Homo sapiens: one gene and its partners. The protein of the gene in region 3 interacts with the protein of the main gene of each other region in a pairwise test. Each region holds a gene or a part of one and is shown on either strand. Other genes may lie near its edges.

The links.
Region 1: the proteins of ETS2 (region 3) and PPME1 interact in a two-hybrid assay, tested with the Homo sapiens proteins (one large-scale study listed by BioGRID and IntAct).
Region 2: the proteins of ETS2 (region 3) and NDRG1 interact in a two-hybrid assay, tested with the Homo sapiens proteins (one large-scale study listed by BioGRID and IntAct).
Region 4: the proteins of ETS2 (region 3) and NDUFB5 interact in a two-hybrid assay, tested with the Homo sapiens proteins (one large-scale study listed by BioGRID and IntAct).

Annotation. Positions count from the first base shown.
Region 1 is NC_000011.10:74,247,789-74,251,288, forward strand, and holds part of PPME1 (protein phosphatase methylesterase 1), read left to right. Parts: intron 1-2,357; exon of another isoform or gene 2,358-2,534; intron 2,535-3,165; coding exon 3,166-3,230; coding exon of another isoform or gene 3,231-3,470; exon of another isoform or gene 3,471-3,500. UniProt on the Homo sapiens protein: Demethylates proteins that have been reversibly carboxymethylated. Demethylates PPP2CB (in vitro) and PPP2CA. Binding to PPP2CA displaces the manganese ion and inactivates the enzyme.
Region 2 is NC_000008.11:133,290,753-133,294,252, forward strand, and holds part of NDRG1 (protein NDRG1), read right to left. Parts: intron 1-3,500. UniProt on the Homo sapiens protein: Stress-responsive protein involved in hormone responses, cell growth, and differentiation. Acts as a tumor suppressor in many cell types. Necessary but not sufficient for p53/TP53-mediated caspase activation and apoptosis.
Region 3 is NC_000021.9:38,812,429-38,815,928, forward strand, and holds part of ETS2 (protein C-ets-2), read left to right. Parts: intron 1-574; coding exon 575-686; intron 687-1,844; coding exon 1,845-1,964; intron 1,965-2,352; coding exon 2,353-2,553; intron 2,554-3,500. UniProt on the Homo sapiens protein: Transcription factor activating transcription. Binds specifically the DNA GGAA/T core motif (Ets-binding site or EBS) in gene promoters and stimulates transcription.
Region 4 is NC_000003.12:179,614,794-179,618,293, forward strand, and holds part of NDUFB5 (NADH dehydrogenase [ubiquinone] 1 beta subcomplex subunit 5, mitochondrial isoform 1 precursor), read left to right. Parts: exon of another isoform or gene 1-85; intron 86-177; coding exon 178-266; intron 267-1,189; coding exon 1,190-1,256; intron 1,257-2,189; coding exon 2,190-2,251; intron 2,252-3,500.

The sequences.
Region 1 (3,500 bases), on a different chromosome or scaffold from region 3:
TATTTTTCTTATTGTTAGAAGTTTTAGGAAAGGGAAAGGCTCAAGATAATCCAGATATAAAAAGGTATAAATACCTGTTTAGAAGACAGCATGGTAAGATGGTAAAAGTAAGGTCTCTGAAGTTCGGAAAACTGAGTTTTGAATACTGCTTTTCCAGTAATTTTTTGACTCTGGGCAAGTTATCTGACTTGCCTCAGCTTTAGTCTTCTTAATCTGGAAAATGAAAAAACTGATGGCAGCCTCAAACAGATCGTGGGGTATAATGAGTAGGAAAGTGACATGCTGAGCACTGTATACAGATGCATGTATGTTAGCTAGATAACAGTGGAGGCAGCGGGTCCAATTTTGTGGGGGCTCTTGCTTTAGTACGGGTAAAAGACTCAGTGAAGGTGAAGCCAGTAGGCATACAACTTTTGGGTTATGGGAAGAAGAGGTGCCAACTCCAAGACCAAAGTTTCAGGCTCAGGCAGAATCTGTTCTAGACCTTTCTTCCCTACTTACTCTCCCTGGACAATTTCATGGCTTCCATTTATATATTGATGACTCCCAAAGCTAAACATCCACCTCACCCCTCTCTCCTGAGATCCAGTCCTAGCCTATGTAGCAAACCTGCTGGATATCTCATGGGCCTCTCAAACTGTTCTTTTAGCTATCCTCAAGCTTTCCACAGCAAAAGGAGCTATATTCTCTCATAATAGTTGTTCAAAGGCTCTCACATATAAAACTCTGGTCCCAGACCTTCATGGCTTTGCCTTCCTTTAACTACATTGTATCCTGAGGCCTAGAATAGGACTATGAGCTGGGACTGTGTGATTTTTTTTCCATGGCACTGATGTTGGTAATTATGGGCTTAGACACTTATTTAAGTAGATGCTTATAAATGTCTAAGCCCGTAATTACCAACATGAGTGCCATGAAATTGAATCTAAGACACTTAAGTTCAATTCAAGAAACCTTTCCTAGGCACCCTTTCTGTGCAAGACCTATGCATGATGCTGGGCAGACAGAAGAATCAGATATGGCCCCTGAGACTGCCTGAAGGCAGTTGACATGGACTGGGATAGCATTTGAAATCATTGTTGATCACCAGCCTTGGAATCAGACAATCCTGGGTTTGAATCACTGTTAATAGTTTTGCGGTATGAGTGAATTCCTAACTTATTTAATTTTGAGTTTCTTCATCTGTGAAATGGAGATAATGATATATCTCAGTACAGTTACATGAAGTTTAAATGAAAAAAATGCGGGTAGTCTAACAAATGATGCCTTTCATTATATTCAGGAAGTAATCACGATTCCTTATGAGATGTCCTCCTGTTTCCTCAATATGGATTATATCAAGACCACCTTCTGGTTTAAAGAAAGCCTCCTATGAGTATAGAGAGTAAATGGCGAGGATAAGGAACATTCCACAGAACAAAGGGAAATGGCTAAGGCTGCATAGATTCCAAACCACAGCTTTGCCAGCACTGTGTTCAAACCAACTGACTTAGTTATGAAATCCTGGAAAACTACCACCTATTCATAGTACCCCTTGGGTAAATAATTTAGGCTCTCTGAACCTAAGGCTCCTAATCTGTGCAATGGGAGAGAAGAGTTTGGAAATATTCCCACCTCATAGAATAATCATGAGGATTACCCATGAACATGTTATTTTATGTGTACCTGGCACAGTGTTGTTGGTGTATGTGAGTTCTCTCTGATTATACCTACTCTTCCAAAGAGGAAGGACAAATGCGTCCCTAGTCATCAGAGCTGATCTAACAGAAAGAACAGGGAGATTGGAGTTGTAAGTTTTGGATCTAGTCATTTGTTCATCATTCATTCGCTAAAGACTTAAGCATCTACTCAGTGCCCTACCCTGTGTTAGGTCTTATTAGGGATATAGAGCAAGTAATAACACCATTGTCCCCTGTTCTTATGGAAATGACACACTCCTGGGGAGGCAAGCACCAGTGGCATGTAAAATGTAAACTTACTTGAAACTTACAAGAGGGCCATGTGCTGCTCTGTGTTTGGATCCAAGTGCATTAACAACTTTAGGAGCTAGAAGGGAGAGGTGACTAGGCTTGAGCACCCAGAGAGAGGCAGCTTACTGCAGGAGGAGGGGCACAGGATGGACTTTACTAAATGGGATCATCTTATTCCTCCACTAATTAATGAAGTGGCCTTGGGCAGGTTACTTCACTAATCATGGCCTCAGTTTCATCATCTCAGAAAAGAATTTCAGTATTTTTGTGCTTAATTGTATAGGGTAGATTTTGAGAATCAACTTTAAAAATGGATAGAAGAATACACTGAAAACTTTTGAATCCTGCGTAACTGGGGTAAGAACCACAGGATGTAATGACCAGAAGAACTTTCAAGCCCATTCCTTTATTTTATAAATAGAGAATCTGAGGCTGAGAAAATCTGCTGTCTCTACTTATGGGGGCTCTGGGTCTCATATCCTTTAGTCTCCTTAGGGATCTTCTTTATCAGTCATCGCTGTTCATTCTCAATCATTGTCGCATTAGTTACGAGCTTACAGTGTTCTGTAAGACAGTATGAGAAAGTGCTTAGTACAATGCCTGGCACATGCTTAAGTGCTCAGATGGTAACTTATTATTGTAATAATACATTTTGAATCCTTAACATAGCTTACAAAATCCTTAATGGTTTGGCCCCTGCTTACCTCTCCAGCCTTATTGTTAACCACTCTCATAAGCACCATGCCAAGCTTCTTGTATTCCAAGCCATTTCAAGCCTTCCTTCCTTCCTGGTTCCCTCTTGGATTGTGAAGTTCCCTTTCTTATGCTCTTACAGCCCCATGTAGCCAGTTTTATCATAGGAATGACATGCTGCATTAAAATGTTGGTTTTTGTGTTTTACTCCCCTACTGGACTGTAAATCCCCTGAGGACAAGAACTGTTTCTTCTATGTGTCTCTGGCCCACAGTAAATGTACACTAAATAGGACAGAAGGAAAAAGTGAAGGGAAATGATTGGCGCAAGGTTACAATTACTTGTATTACCATCCTCAGCAAGACTTGATAATTGGGTCCAGAGTATTGAGGTGAGGTTGGAAATGGGGAGGTAGGTCCTGGGCTCCTGGAATGACCTATGAGGCTGCATAAGAGAGGGCTCTTTTAGTCGCTGAAGTTGCCTTGCTTTGATTCCTCTCCAGGGAAGTTCCAGATGCAGGTCCTACCCCAGTGTGGCCATGCAGTCCATGAGGATGCCCCTGACAAGGTGAGTCTGGTGCTCAGTGACTGTAAAAGGACAACTGTGAGAATAACCCTGGATGTCACAGAAGACAAGTCTCTGAGTCTCAGCCTGCATTGCCTGCAGCAGCTGCTGTGGAGCCTATGCAGATGCAGTTCCACCAGCTCTCCAACTTCTCCCTGGCAGCTGCTTATGGTATTGGTTTTGTGTATATGTGCTGAGGAGCTACTGACACTCTGCTATTTCATCCCAGGGCCCTGTGGTTAAGATCTTAAGCTCTACTTCTCCAATACCCCC
Region 2 (3,500 bases), on a different chromosome or scaffold from region 3:
CTTTTCTCCCTTCACAACACCCAGAAGGTTCTCTGTTTTCAGCTCCCCCATAGTACCTTCCTAAGACGGCCAACTCAATGCTTTGGAAAAGCATTCACTCAGCACACTGTTTCACTTGCTCCTCAAGGAGGTTGCCCCGGGAGAGGCTGGGTATTATACCCAGTTCACAAATGGGTAACCTGAGGCTCAAAAACAAACACAAAGGCCCACTTGACTTCCAAAGGCCACATGTCTAGATTCCTCCCTACTGAGGGAAAGGTGAAAAACTCACTGGTTTGTTGTGGGTGCAGGTGTGGCACTCATTCCCTCGGGGGAGGGCGGACAACAGTCCCCTGGAGGCCTTCAGTGAAGCAGATAAAGGGAGAGCAGGCGGGAATTGCTGACAAGGGTAGCATCGATTGTCACCAACAGCAACTGGCCCAGATTCCACCCTCTGTAACATGCCTGGTTTTAAGGCCACATGAAAGCCAGTGTTCTCTCCAGCACATTGTGCTCTTTATAGAACAGATTTTTAAAAGGAGGGAAAAAATCAACATGTGCTGTGGCTGTTTGCTGTAGCAACTTCCCCAGAAAATTGCCGAGAACAGCACCATTTCTGCCTGAACCTCAAGGAAAACCACCTTGAGATAGGCCCTGGATAGCCCTGCCTTACTGTGGATACAATCCTTTGTCATTTCTTTGCCCAAAGAGATTTTGAAGTCAAGCTACAAAGCAGTTCATGGGCTCTCTTGGTGTTTTCTGGCCCTTCTGAAACTCAAGGCCCTGGGGAGGGTGAGGAAGTTGGCAGTCTTCACGAACTGTCTTTCTTAACTAATCAACTCAGCAAACAATATGGGTGGATTCACTGGACCTTCAAGAAAGTTCCCTAGTTTAGAGGTTAGGGAACTGTATCAGAGCAATCAGAATCAAGGAAACAGTACAAATGTCAGAGAACAAAACCACAGTAGGAACTCCTCGAGGGCCCCTGTACTTTGCAGTGGAGCCTGAAACCCAGGAGGCATCAGTGATGTTTGATATTCAAGGAATGAAAAAGGGATCACTAAGAAGGTGAACCCCACTGTCTCCCTCTCAAACAAGCCAAAGCCGCATTCACTCCCTGGGTGTGGGTCCAGAGGGGCTGGAGCTGAAACTGAACTGCTGTGTGTTCAACTTGAGCACAGCACCAGGGAGGTCAGCAAGAGTGTCCCAAACACAACAGCAGGAAGAGGGAGGTGTCAGGAATCTCGTCAGGGCCCACCTCTTTTCTGCAATACAACCGAGATCTTCCTGGAGATTCTCAGTGGAGTTTTGGCAGCACGAGTAATTTGTTTGGCAGACAGAAGACGACCGTCTGAGGGGACGAGGTGAATAACTGGAAGTCCAAAGGAGGACACTGGTCTCCTTAGAGGATTATTTTGTGAAATTGCAAGACAGGCATGAGCTGCGCTGGATGGTCTGAGATAATTTGTGGAAATCACACAAACGGAGCCAGTGTTAGCAGAGGACGAGGAAATGGCTTCCTCATACAGAACCCTTTGTCCCGAGATGGGATGCTAGCCACGCTAACAGGATCCTTCCCCAGAATGGTCTTGCAGTTTCCACCCTCCGGAATGGGCCTCCGATCTTGTCTATGCAAGATGGTCCAAGTTACTTCCTTAATCAGTGGAGATGTCCTTTCCACCACCACTAACACAACACCTACTAAGGACAGGCTCTCAGGTTTCATGGGAGACATGGACAGGTCCCAGGAAGGACCCAACCCAGCCTCCCCTCCAGCAGAGGACAGCCAAGGAGGCCTTTCTGGAGAAAGGAGGAGAGTTCCATGATTAAAAAGGAGGAAGGAGAGATGGTAAGCATTCCCAGCTGAGAGAGGCCATAGACCCACCTCTTAAATGGCCCTCTCACATCCATATTTGAAGAGGGTTACTTGGAATCTTCTTAGGTTCCGTGGGGGTGGGGCAGAGGGTGAAGGCAGGAGAACAAGGTGGAGACCTGGGCCCCCACCCACCTCTCTTCAAACAGAACTCTATGCAGATTTAAAATGTATAGCTGCAGAAAGTCTCCCCACAGATTTAAAGAAAGGAAAGATTAAACTGCTGGGGAGGGCACTCAAGGCCCCCAGACTGTTAAGGAGCCTCACTTTCTACCAGCTCAGTTGCAAGAAAACCCGCTGGACTCAAAAGGTCAGAGATGGAGCCCAGGCAGGTAGGGCATAGGCAGGTCTGCAAACAATGTTAGGTGGGAAAGTCAAAGATCTGGGTCAAAGAGACCTGCTTATGGCCCCGATTGTGTAATCCATTCCCATTCTGTAGTGCTGGGGCTTACGCCCCACCCGAGGGAGCCCAGGTTTCTTTTCACATGGCCCCCACCCCGAGAACACGGCTCCAGGTTGGCACCTACTCATGGCCCTCTACCTCTGCAGCCGCCTTCCTGTGGGGCCTCAGTGTCCCCAGCCCTTCTGCCTACCTGCCTGGGCTAAGTTCTCAGCCAAGACCGCTATCTAGCCTGCCTCTATCTCCAAGTTGAAAGATAAAAAGCAAGTGGACACGCGGTACTTCCATCACACAGCCATCAAGGGAGGCAGGAACAACAGCCTGGGGTGGATCCAGGAAACAAGCTCCTTCTCAAAAGGTGGGCCCAGAGGGTGTGGGTGGCCTCCAAGCGCAATGTTGGAGGGTGGAAAGGGCTCAGGAGGCTCACCTTGGGCAGAACCCCACTCACTGGACTCTGGACAGAAGAGTCACCAGCCTGAGCCTCAATTTTCTGACCTGAGAGGTGGAAAGAATGTCTTCTACCTCAGTTAGCTGATGTGATGCATTGAACCTCCAAGGCACTATAGCAAACAAGAGCTATTTACTGAGCACTCACTAATTCCCTGGCACTGTGGACACAGGGTGGCCTGAAGGTACAGCGGCATGTATGACTACACCTTCCTTCTTCTCTCCCCTGTCATTCCAGAGCAGAGGTTCTCAACTCTGTCTGCCTGCAGGATACCCCATTCCCAACCCAGCCAAAGGAGCTTTGAAACAACAGCATATCCCCTGATGGAGAGAGAATCGCAGGAGACCGGGCCTGGAAATGTGCATTTCAGACAAGATTTTCATGACACTATTATGCAACCTACATAAGCTTAGCAAAAAGCAATACCTAGGTCAAGCATTTGCAGGCACTTTCACAGCCTTGGGTAGGTTTAGGACAAAGGGTCCCAGACTCTGCCTGCCAAGAAGATGCCTTGAGAATGTCTTCTGCGGGTGCTACTGACGGCAAACACCTACACGCTGTTTTCCACATGCTCAGTGCTGTTCTCAGGTTACACAGATTAATATTTACACATTCTGATGGCATCATGTCTGTTACTCTCATTTTACAGAAAAGCAAACTGAGGCATGGAGCTCCTGACTGCCTTTTCATTTGAGCCTGATTTCTTCAGGCGCCCCAACATGTTGTCATGGAAAAAAAACAAAGGCTCTGAAGTCCAACTGTCCGGGTTCAAAGTCTGGCTCTCCCACCTGAGCCATATG
Region 3 (3,500 bases):
GTGGATTAGGCCACTAAAACAAATTCCCAGTCACTCCGACTCTGTGAGGTTACTTAAATAAATCCACAGTGGCCGGGCACCGTGGCTCACGCCTGTAATCCCAGCACTTTGGGAGGCCAAGGCGGGTGGATTACACGAGGTCAGGAGTTTGAGACCAGCCTGGCCAACATGGTGAAACCCTGTCTGTACTAAAAATGCAAAAATTATCCAGGCGTGGTGGTGGGCGCCTGTAGTCCCAGCTACTCGGGAGGCTGAGGCAGGAGAATCGCTTGAACCCAGGAGGGGGAGGTTGCAGTGAGCCAAGATTGCACCACTGCACTCTGGCCTGTGTGACAGAGTAAGACCTGTCTCAAAATAATAATAATAATAATCCACAGTAAAATACAATCATTTCAGTCACTTTGACCATTTTACGAGTCTGTTTTAAGGACTGACTGGTTGATTCCATGTTTGCTTCAAAATTGCCAGTTTAATCAGGGACTATTGGTAGGATTGCCCACAGACCACTTTTACAACAGGTAATTCAATCAGTTTAAATATTGTATTTCCATTTTTTTTCCATCTGTTTTTGCAGCGCCAGCCAGCCTTTGACACCTTTGATGGGTCCCTGTTTGCTGTTTTTCCTTCTCTAAATGAAGAGCAAACACTGCAAGAAGTGCCAACAGGCTTGGATTCCATTTCTCATGGTAATTGGTTCCTCAGACTTGACAAATTGTGCATGATTTTCCTAAGTAGTTCAGTTAATAAAGAGATGACAGTTCCTAAGTGAGAAATGTTGGTATCTGGAATCTTTGATATGAATAGCCAGAAGTTCTGGACCTGGGAGAAGGCAGTTTTTCATTTGTATCAACTTGGTGATTCTGATGTGGATTCTGATGTCTTGAGTGCCAGACGCCCCCCAGTGAGCCGCTGTTAGGAAACTGCAGGGGAACCCCTGAGCTGCCCCTCCTGGATGTTTTCAACATTGGCAAGCAGGTCCTCATCTCCCTGCTCTGCCCTGGAAAACAGACAGAAGAGTAGACATTAAAACACACCCAAACTTGTAATTTGGGTTTGCATCATTAGTTAAATCATCTCCCCTGCCCTGAGTTTTGGGGCAACAAATTGTTCTTTGTAATCCTTACCCATCGGTAGTTCTTTCTGTAGTTCTTCGTGTCATTGTTTATTCTTCTTAAAGGAATAGCACGTCAGATAATGTTCATACAATTACTGTGACAGAGCTATTAGTTGGAAACATGCCAGAGATGACTGTGTCATGTGAAGTAGGTGCTGAGAATACAGGCCAGAAAATTAATTAAAACGCATACACTGGCGTAAGCATAACCCTGCATGGCAGCCATTTATCATTCTTGAAATTGCTGAGGGTGTCTGGAGAAGATTGTTTTTCAATAAAAATGGAAGGTGTGGTTCCATTACCGTGCTAAGTGCGGCACATTCATATCACACTCACTTCTCAGCTCTACGCCTAGTTTAATGGAAGTGACTTCCAAATGATACAGTCCCTTCAGCCTTTTGACCAGAAACCATGCAACTGTTTTCATTGCCTACAATTTTAAAATAGACTTAGCAGTTTTCCCTACGCACAACTGCTTTGTGACGCTTTGCAAAATAGAATCAAATCTGAGTTTTATTTTAGATTTTTTTAATAAGTATAGTTCTGAGATATATATTTTCTCAATTATAGTCAGAAAAGTTTTTTGTTAATAGTTACACTGTTTTAAGGAATCATGCCAAGGTTTGAGATCAAAATTGTTCTTTTCCAAAAACTAAGATGTCTCTCCTAAATCTCCACCTGATATCACCAACTTGAAGTCCTAATGTCCCCATGGGGGGTTTCCTTCCAGACTCCGCCAACTGTGAATTGCCTTTGTTAACCCCGTGCAGCAAGGCTGTGATGAGTCAAGCCTTAAAAGCTACCTTCAGTGGCTTCAAAAAGGAACAGCGGCGCCTGGGCATTCCAAAGAGTAAGTACTGCTTTCCTGAGCCTGCACTGGGTGAGAAGAACCAACTTCAGTGCAGTTGTTTGATCTTGACTTGTTTATTAAGCTTTTGCTTGGGGTATTCTGCAAAGAGTAGCATGGATGTCGTTAACCTGAGCCAGTTTCTGTTTCACCCCAATCAACCCAAGACTTGATCCAGAACTCATTAAATATGTAGTAGAAGGACGCATTACTGGTGTCTTGAAATGTGCCTGGGTCGTGTCAGAATGGTGACGTGTCATCATGGTATCTTGCTCATTCGTGGGTTCTGGTGTATGTCGGTACTTGGTGCATAAATTAGGGATGACAGTGGTCTCACTACCTTTCCACTGTTTTTACCTCATGTGTTCCATTTTTTCTTCTCTCCTGGTAGACCCCTGGCTGTGGAGTGAGCAACAGGTATGCCAGTGGCTTCTCTGGGCCACCAATGAGTTCAGTCTGGTGAACGTGAATCTGCAGAGGTTCGGCATGAATGGCCAGATGCTGTGTAACCTTGGCAAGGAACGCTTTCTGGAGCTGGCACCTGACTTTGTGGGTGACATTCTCTGGGAACATCTGGAGCAAATGATCAAAGGTACCAGCTGAACGTCTTACTTCTCCTTGTCCAGGATGAGCTGTGGCCGGGAAGACTGATTGGGAAAGTCACGTGGGTGTTCTTCAACCTTAGGGTTGCCACTTGAAATGACATAGAGTACCTTGCCTCAAAATGCCACTCAAGTGAGTCAGATATATGGCAGTGATTATAGATTTTTATCCCACTTTATGTGAGTGTGTGTGTGTGTGTGTGTGTGTGTGTATAGCATCAAGTATAGCCACAAGGTAGTAGCCTTAGTCACTAAATTGTTTGCTATTGCTGGCTGTATTCATCACGGGAGTCCATGTTGACTCAGATATGTAGGACAGCAAGAATTCCCACGTCTTCTGAGCTCACCTTACAGAGCTAAGAGATATGGCAGCCTTAATGAAAGGGGGGAGCCTTTACTCACATAAACCCTGTGAATTCTACTGTAAATTTTCCTACATCCAAATGGAATGTATTTTGGATGTTGAGGATTGTTGAGGGGGCGGGGTCTGTTTTTAAACAAGTGAGAAATTGATATATATTTACACGCTATCATATTGTACAGAAACTGGCCATTGATCAGTAGAAATCTCACCAAATACAGAGAAAGTCTTGATTCAAAACTTAAAATAGCAGGGAGACCAATGTTTAAAACATGTTGAGTTAAAAAAGAAAAGAGGGCCAGGTGCGGTGGCTCACACCTGTAATCCCAGCACTTTGGGAGGCGGAGGCGGGCAGATTACTTGAGGTTAGGAGTTCAAGACCAGCCTAGCCAATATGGTGAAACCCTGTCTCTACTAAAAATACAAAAAATAAAAATATTAGCTGGGCATAGTGGCACATGCCTGTAATCCCAGATACTCGGAAGCCTGAGGCAGGAGAATCCCTTGAGCCCGGGAGGCAGAGGTTGCAGTGAGTCGAGATCACACCACTGCACTCCAGCCTGTGGGAGTGAGACT
Region 4 (3,500 bases), on a different chromosome or scaffold from region 3:
CTACCTCATAACAAGGTTTGAGGGAGGCACATCTCACACCTGAGTGTGAAAACCCAGTCATCCTGCTTATGAGCTACAAAAGGATCCTTGTATTTTTTTATAATCTGATTTTAACTCAGAATATAACAGTATACCCATATGAACCTTGTATAAAACAGGGTAATTCAATATTCCCAGCTCCTGTTCGACACAGTGGAGACCATGGGAAAAGACTATTTGTCATCAGACCTTCTAGATTCTATGACAGGCGTTTTTTGAAGTTATTGGTAAGTTTAAATTTTTTGTTGAATTAAAGTCTTTGCATGTAACAGGGAAAAAATTTTTGCCTCTTTAGAAAACATCTTTCATTTTATGAAATATTTTATTTTGTAAATTTATATTTCTTTCTGTAGAAGATACTGAGACTGTAAAGTCTGATTTGTTATTGAATTTCTCTTTAAATTAGTGAAGCTTTCCTTCTTCACAAAAGGATTTACACTAAATGGAGGTAAAACTTGAACCATTCCTTTCTTCTGAAGATTATGGCGTTTCGAAATAGAATCTGTGTTCCTATAACTAAAATATTCTTTAAATTACCAAAGAACTTGTTGAAAGACTTGCTTAAATAAAGGAGCTACATTATTTTGGGATATGATTTTATATTTATATGTTGTTCAGGAACATTTATTTCAGAGAGTAACAGGGATCTATAGTGCAATCTTAATTTAGCAATAATATAATTACATTGCTTATTTAGAATGCTGACTATATTTCTGTCTCAAGGCTCTATACGAACAAAGTAGAGGCTTAGAAAATGGGAGATTGTCTGGACCATCTGCCACGGTAGATAAAGCTCTGAATCATCATTTGAGTACTGACCTTAAAACTTTCTCTTGCCCTTCCGTTGTGTTTAATGACCTTTTTCATCTCCTTGGTTGAGCCCTTACTTTTCTTGTTATGACCAGCTCAAATCCTATTTAGTGGTAGAAATCACCCTGATGCTTTTAGACTTTTGTTCTTAACATATTATTTTCTTTCATGGCATTGCTTTACCAAAAAGTAAAATCACAGAAATCAATAATTTGGTACTGTATGCCCAATTTGGCAAGTTTATTTTATAAGAAATATGAGGAAATCATATCATGAGGATGATTTGTGTGTGGGGAGAGTTACGAAATGGTCATGAGAAACACTTTTTTTTTTATCTTAGAGATTCTACATTGCATTGACTGGGATTCCAGTAGCAATTTTCATAACTCTGGTGAATGTATTCATTGGTAAGTCACTTCCATCCCCTGCCAGCACCACCAGATTGGAAAAATTTTTAAACATATGTACATTAATATAAAAAAGAAATTATGGATATTGTAATGAAAAGCTCTTTAAATAATTAAGCATAAGCATGGCAGTTTATCTTAAAATAACCAAATCTCAATCTGAACTAAGAATTTTTTAATCCATCCTAGAACATATAAAACTATAATCCTCGGCCAGGCACAGTGGCTCACGCCTGTAATCCCAGCACTTTGGGAGGCCGAGGCGGGCAGATCATGAGGTCAGGGGTTCGAGACCAGCCTGGCTGACATAGTGAAACCCCGTCTCTACTAAAAATACAAAAAACTAGCTGGGCGTGGTGGCAGGCGCCTGTAATCCCAGCTACTCGGGAGGCTGAGGCAGGAGAATGGCTTGAACCCAGGAGGTGGAGGTTGCAGTGAGCTGAGATGGCGCCATCGCACTCCAGCCCGGGCAACAGAGTGAGACTCTGTCCCCCCCCCAAAAAAAAACTATAATCCTCTTACAAAGACTGAAAGTGTCAATGACAGTAAACATTAGATTTTCGTGGGAAATTTTGTTCAAAGTACTTCTAACACCTTGAATCCTAAAATGTTTTGTATCATAGGTATAGGGAAGACCAGAAGGAATAATATGTCTTTTATTATATCTTGTTACAGTATAGAAAAACAAAATGAGAAACTCATGGAATACCTATAAATAATGCCTTACACAGAGAGATGTCTAAAAATGTCTAACAAATGAATTGATTTTCAACCAGATTAAAGTGAATTAAAAATACTACATATCTTCATTGGTACAAATTTTTTAAAGAATCCTTTAAAACCACAAGAAGTTGGTTTCTTACTTTAATGGTGAATAATTAATTTTATAAACTCCTCATGCTAAAGTTAAACATAACCATTTTTTCTTATTAGGTCAAGCTGAACTAGCAGAAATTCCAGAAGGCTATGTCCCAGAACACTGGGAATATTATAAGGTTTGTATAGGACATTGACAATTACATACTGTTACATGCCTTGTCAACGCACTAGTTAATGTCTTAATTCAGCAATTATGATATAGTCAGGTTTTTTGTTTTGTTTTTTTTGAGACAGCATCTCGCTCTGTTGCCCAGGCTGGAGTGCAGTGGCGCGATTTCAGCTCACTGCAACTTCTGCCTCCCGCATTCAAGCGATTCTCATGCCTCAGTCTCCCACGTCGCTGGGATCACAGGTGTGTGCTGCCACTCCTGGCTAATTTTTGTATTTTTAGTAGAGACAGGATTTCACCATGTTGGCCAGGCTTTTCTGGAACTCCTGGCCTCAAGTGATCCACCCACCTCAGCCTCCCAAAGTCCTGGGATTAAATGTGTGAGCCACTGTGACCAGCCATGATAGAGTTTTATATTTCATTTTTTATATCAAGCAGATACATTTTTTTGCATACTTTTTATAAACAACGAATTTTGGTACTTCATTTTTAAAAAAATCATTTTAAGCTTTACAATTTTTTAAAGAATGATTGCAGTGTGTTCTCAGCCTAACAGAGTAACATAATTTATCCTAAGTTCAATGCCTTAGGAGAGACTTCACCAATGTTAATGCTAGCTGTCATTTATTGAGCACCTACTATGTAACAGGTACTGTGCTGAGTGTTTTACAAATATTTATTATTTCATCCCATGTAAAATGTACTATTATTATTCCCTCTTTGTAGATGAAGAAAGTGAGGCTAAAAGAGTTAAGTGACCTGTCTAGATGGGGTCACTATTTCAACCCGGGCAACTTTGACTCCAGAGCCTGAACTGTTGGTCATTATACCATACTGCCACTGCTACCAAAATCCAAAATTAATTTTGTTACTTGTTTTAACAAGTGTTATTGTGAGCCTTGAATGGAGTATATCCCATCATGTTTTATTATCTGAATGAATTATATTTTAAATACAAATCTTAAACCATTAAATCTTAAGGCAGACCTTACACTTAGTTTGTTTATGCTAACTGGTGCAAAGAGCTCCATTTTTGAATTACCAAAACCTGGGTTTGTCTTCTGAATCTGCCACCTAAGATACTCAGCATAGTGTAATGGAAAAGAGTACACAGCTTTGGAGTCAGACAGACCTGGTTTGAGTCCAGGTGCTGCCATTTATTAGCTACGTAACTTTGTGCAATTCACTTATCTTTAAAATGCGGACAAAAATAGTATCCACCTCATCTGTTAAAATTATTTTATATATAGGTATAT